2 separate regions of the Homo sapiens genome follow, and region 2 is linked to region 1. The links come from fine-mapping of genetic effects on gene expression. Tissue or cell type: whole blood. Region 1 holds a variant in brackets; the other region holds the start of a gene. All regions are shown on one strand. Distances are from middle to middle.

Evidence for each region. PIP is the estimated chance that this variant, and not a neighbour inherited with it, causes the effect.
Region 2: it holds the start of TRIM61, and the variant in region 1 is fine-mapped to the expression of TRIM61 in whole blood (TOPMed, PIP above 0.99).

The regions. Positions count from the first base shown.
Region 1 is chr4:165,019,285-165,021,968 of GRCh38, forward strand. No RefSeq gene overlaps it. Among named protein-coding and RNA genes, the nearest start is that of TRIM60, 11 kb to the right of the region's middle. The variant G/A (reference allele first, on the strand shown) is at 1,481.
Region 2 is chr4:164,976,127-164,978,810 of GRCh38, forward strand. TRIM61 (tripartite motif containing 61) reads right to left here and starts at 1,531. Exons shown (of 3, transcript NM_001414904.1): 1 at 1,405-1,531; 2 at 562-699. RefSeq lists enhancers at 1,640-1,719, 1,750-1,809.

The DNA of each region.
Region 1 (2,684 bases):
CATAGGACAATAGTGGGGGGAAGGTCAGCAGATAAACAAGTGAACAAAGGTCTCTGGTTTTCCTAGGCAGAGGACCCTGCGGCCTTCCGCAGTGTTTGTGTCCCTGGGTACTTGAGATTAGGGAGTGGTGATGACTCTTAACGAGCATGCTGCCTTTAAGCATCTGTTTAACAAAGCACATCTTGCATCGCCCTTAATCCATTTAACCCTGAGTGGACACAGCACATGTTTCAGAGAGCACAGGGTTGGGGGTAAGGTCACAGATCAACAGGATAAAGATTTTTCTTAGTAGAGAGCAAAATGAAAAGTCTCCCATGTCTACCTCTCTCTACACAGACACGGCAACCATCCGATTTCTCAATCTTTTCCCCACCTTTCCCCCCTTTCTACTCCACAAAACCGCCATTGTCATCATGGCCCGTTCTCAATGAGCCGCTGGGCACACCTCCCAGACGGGGTGGTGGCCGGGCAGAGGGGCTCCTCACTTCCCAGTAGGGGCGGCCGGGCAGAGGCGCCCCTCACCTCCCGGGCGGGGCGGCTGGCCGGGCGGGGGGCTGACCCCCCCACCTCCCTCCCGGACGGGGCGGCTGGCCGGGCGGGGGGCTCCTCACTTCCCAGTAGGGGCTGCCGGGCAGAGGCGCCCCTCACCTCCCGGACAGGGCGGCTGGCCTGGCGGGGGCTGACCCCCACCTCCCTCCCGGACGGGGCGGCTGGCCGGGCAGAGGGGCTCCTCACTTCCCAGTAGGGGCTGCCGGGCAGAGGCGCCCCTCACCTCCCGGACAGGGCGGCTGGCCTGGCGGGGGCTGACCCCCACCTCCCTCCCGGACGGGGTGGCTGCCGGGCGGAGACACTCCTCACTTCCCAGACGGGGTGGCTGCCAGGCGGAGGGTCTCCTCTCTTCTCAGACGGGGCGGCCGGGCAGAGACGCTCCTCACCTCCCAGACGGGGTCGCAGCCGGGTAGAGGCGCTCCTCACATCCCAGCCGGGGCGGCGGGGCAGAGGCGCTCCCCACATCTCAGACGATGGGCGGCCGGGCAGAGACACTCCTCACTTCCTAGATGGGATGGCGGCCGGGAAGAGGCGCTCCTCACTTCCTAGATGGGATGGCTGCCGGGAAGAGGCGCTCCTCACTTCCTAGATGGGATGGCGGCCGGGCAGAGACGCTACTCACTTTCCAGACTGGGCAGCCAGGCAGAGGGGCTCCTCACGTCCCAGACGATGGGCGGCCAGGCAGAGACGCTCCTCACTTCCCAGACGGGGTAGCGGCCGGGCAGAGGCTGCAATCTCGGCACTTTGGGAGACCAAGGCAGGCGGCTGGGAGGTGGAGGTTGTAGCGAGCCGAGATCACGCCACTGCACTCCAGCCTGGGCACCATTGAGCACTGCGTGAACGAGACTCCGTCTGCAATCCCGGCACCTCGGGAGGCCGAGGCTGGCGGATCACTGGCGGTTAGGAGCTGGAGACCAGCCCGGCCAACACA[G/A]CGAAACCTCGTCTCCACCAAAAAAATACGAAAACCAGTCAGGCGTGGCGGCGCGCGCCTGCAGTCGCAGGCACTCGGCAGGCTGAGGCAGGAGAATCAGGCAGGGAGGTTGCAGTGAGCCGATATGGCAGCAGTACAGTCCAGCTTCGGCTCGGCATCAGAGGGAGACCATGGGGAGCGGGAGAGGGAGAGGGAGAGTAGAGGGTTCATTTTGTAGTTTATTTTCTAATTTGAATAATGGATCATACTTGTTTTCACTGACTGACATGTTGATAGAAAAATGTATGCTTTATTTCTGCTTTCAACCTTTTTCAACATCTCTTACAATCAAAATAGTCAAAGATCAATGGTATCGTACCTGAAAGACTGTAGAGTATGATATATTCTCTTGCTTTATTCTTGGCGGGTACTTCTAATAAAGAGTGTGACTCCATTTTTGATGTTTGCTGACAACTTTTAATCCTCACCCCTCTCTCTTCTTCTGCTCCACATCCAGGCTGGCTGATAAGCCAGGATTCCTCCCTCTGGCACAGGTGGGAAGTAAAATAAAATGCAGAACGCTGAATATAACTTGCTCCCATTGGTGTGAAAACAAACTGAAAAGGGTTTCTTTGCTTGTATACTGATATATCCATAAGATTTTCCCGGAATGATATGGAAGAAACTTATGAATGGCAACTCTGGAGAGAAACCTGGGTGTGGGATGAGAGGGCAATTTGCTTTTCACAGTATCCTATGGTGACACTGTGTATTATATCAAGTTCATCTATATCATAATGTTTTAGTGTCTCAACAAACACATTTCTATGATTAGAATAGAGAACCCCAGCCAGGCACAGTGGCTCATGCCTGTAATCCCAGCAGATTGAGAGATGGGGGCAGGTGGATCACCTGAGGTCAATAGTTCGAGACCAGCCTGGCCAACGTGGTGAAACCCCGTCTCTACTAAAAATAAAAAAATTAGCCAGGCATGGCGGCACATGCCTGTAGTCCCAGCTACTCGGGAGGCTGAGGCAGGAGAATCAGAACTCAGGAGACAGAGGATTCACTGATTGCGCCACTGCACTCTAGCCTGGGCGATAGAGCAAGACTCAGTCTCAAAAAAAAAAAAAGAATCTGAATACATCCTATGATGTGTGACTGCTGCCAGCTTTTAAATTTTACCACTCTTTGTCTTTTCCCTTCTGCCCCACATCTGAGCACC
Region 2 (2,684 bases), 43 kb before region 1:
GTTGCTGACCTTCTCCTTATTATAACCCTGCTCTCCTACTACATTCCTTTTTGCTGAAATAATGAAAATAATAATCAATAAAAACTGAGGGAACTCAGAGGCCGGTGCCGGTGCAGGTCCTTGGTATGCTGAGCGCCGGTCCCCTGGGCCCACTGTTGTTTCTCTATACTTTGTCTCTGTCTTATTTCTTTTCTCAGTCTCTCGTCCCACCCGACTAGAAATACCCACAGGTGTGGAGGGGCAGGCCACCCCTTCATAAAGGACACAAGAGGACTCACTCCAGGTATCATTGTGCCCTCCTTTCCCCAAGCATACACCCAAAGCAGTCTTCTCTACTATTTAAAATCAGGACATTAAGTGAACAGAACAGCTCTGTAGGCACAGTCACCACCCTAGTTTAAACCACTTATGTCTCTCTCCTAGATACACAATGGTGCCTCCAATTTCTGAAGTCTGTAGCTAAACTGACCTTTTCAAATACAAACAGAATCCTTTCATATTTCAACTGAAAACATTCCACTGGTCCTTTATTACTTTATGGAAGCAATTCTCAAATCTTACCTTGCATTATAATCACCTGGAGGTCTTGGTAAAAGATTGCCTGGGCCACATCCCCAGTTTCTGACTCAGTAGGGCTGGTTTTTTCCTAAGTTCCCAGATGATGCTGCTGGCCTGCGGACTGTACTTTGTGAACCTATGCTTTAAGGAAAACAAAGCAAAAAGATCCATTAAGATCTAGTCCAAGTTTTTTGCCTAGCTCCCATCATGTCACATATCACAGTTATGTGATTTTACAGCTACTCTGCAATTCTTTACCTAACTGTAAAAACCCCTCACCAGGCAGCAAGCTTCTTGGTGGCAATACGTCTCTAGCTTGTTTGAGGAATAAATAAAACCTGTGGTAGATTCCAAGCTCTCAGTTTCAACCATCATCATACTGGCTGATTCTTAACATGCCTGCACCTAAAGCGCCTCATCTACAAAGTTGAAATGATAATTCGTACCTGTAAGACCCTTGTGAGGATTACAGGATGCTTACATAGGTCGAGGGTGCAGACGACGTAGGCTGGTGGGTTCTCAACTGGCAGCTACCACTTCGCTCCCTTAACTCCCCAACCCCCACTCCCAAACACGTACATTAACTCTTTGAAGATAACATAGCCACTTCATAAACCCTAATTCAGATCATAACATTTAAAGCTTAATTGATACAGGCTCAACACCCCCATTCTAACTCTACAATCCTGAATTTTTCACAAGAGCTACGCCAGACACTAAGGAGATCCAGTCGTGGGCAGGCAGCGACCCGGAGGTTTAGGCACAGAGAATGTTCAAGAAGCCCCTGTCCAGTTAAGCCTCCTGGCGAGGCCCTTCTGGGCCTTTCCTGCGGCCTTCCCAGCTCACCTGGAGCAGACGGATCAGCAAATCCGGCCAAAGAATACTCAGGACCCACCGAGCCCCCGCGAGGAAGGACTCATACCCCAACCCCACCAAGTGGGCTGCTTCCTGCCTGGGGCTCAGCCTGCGCGGTGGTTGGCAGTTGCCCCGGAAGTGGGCGGGAAGGACCTGCGCATGCTCTGTGACCCTGGGTGCAGGGATTGTGTGAAGATTGAGAGCTGGGGGCGCCCTCTTCCGTGATCAGGGCCCCGTTGGCCCCAACTGGCATTTAATTCCCCTGGCTGTCTTTTCGGATTCTTATCACTTTTTATGTATATGAGTAAACTTGAGGGTCCAAGTAAGTCTGCAAGTTGGTTTTAAAAGCTTCACCAGCACAGCGTCCCCTCCCAGATGGTGAGGGAGTGGAGAGCTTTGCAGGGTCAACTGCTTCCCGTAGCCTGGGGTCGCAGGGTGGAGTCGTTGAGCACTCCCTATGCTTGAAAGAGGAATAGAAGCCCCTTTGGATTAGTTTGCATCTCAGTGGGTGAGTGGGTGGATCTCTCCCACCCTGTGGGATTGTGCCCTACCCTATGAACTCAGGTTTACCTGAGGAAGTGACATTTCAGGCGGAATTTGAGGGATGAAGAGGCATTCGTTGGATCAATTCCACGGTCAAAGTCTTCAAGGCTGGAAGAAGAGCCAATGTGGAGCCTCTCAACTTTAAAGAATTTAGTACAGGCCGGGCATAGTGGCTCACACCTGTAATCCAAGCACTTTCAGAGGCAGAGGTGGGAGGATCGCTTGAGGCCAGGAGTTCAGGACAAGCCTAGGTAACATTGCCAGACCCTGCGTCTACAAAATATTTTAGAAATGATTTTTTTTTCTTTTAATAAGAGACGGAATCTCTCTTTCGCCCAGGCTGGAGTGCAGTGGCGCGATCTTGGCTCTCTGCAACCTCTGCCTCCCAGTTTCAAGCAATTCTCCTGCCTCTGTCTCCCGAGTAGCTGGGTCTATAGGCGCACGCCGCCACGCCTGGCTAATTTTTTGTTGTTGTATTTTTAGTAGAGACGGGGTTTCATCGTGTTGCCCAGGCTGGATTCGAACTCCTGAGATCAGGCAATCCGCCCGCCTCGGCCTCCCAAAAGTGCCAGGATTACAGGCGTGAGCCACCTCACCCAGCCAGAAATGATAATTTTATTTTTATTTTTATTTTTTTTTTGAGACGGAGTCTCGCTCTGTGGCCCAGGCTGGAGTGCAGTTGCGTGATCTCGGCTCACTGCAAGCTCCGCCTCCCGGGTTCACGCCAT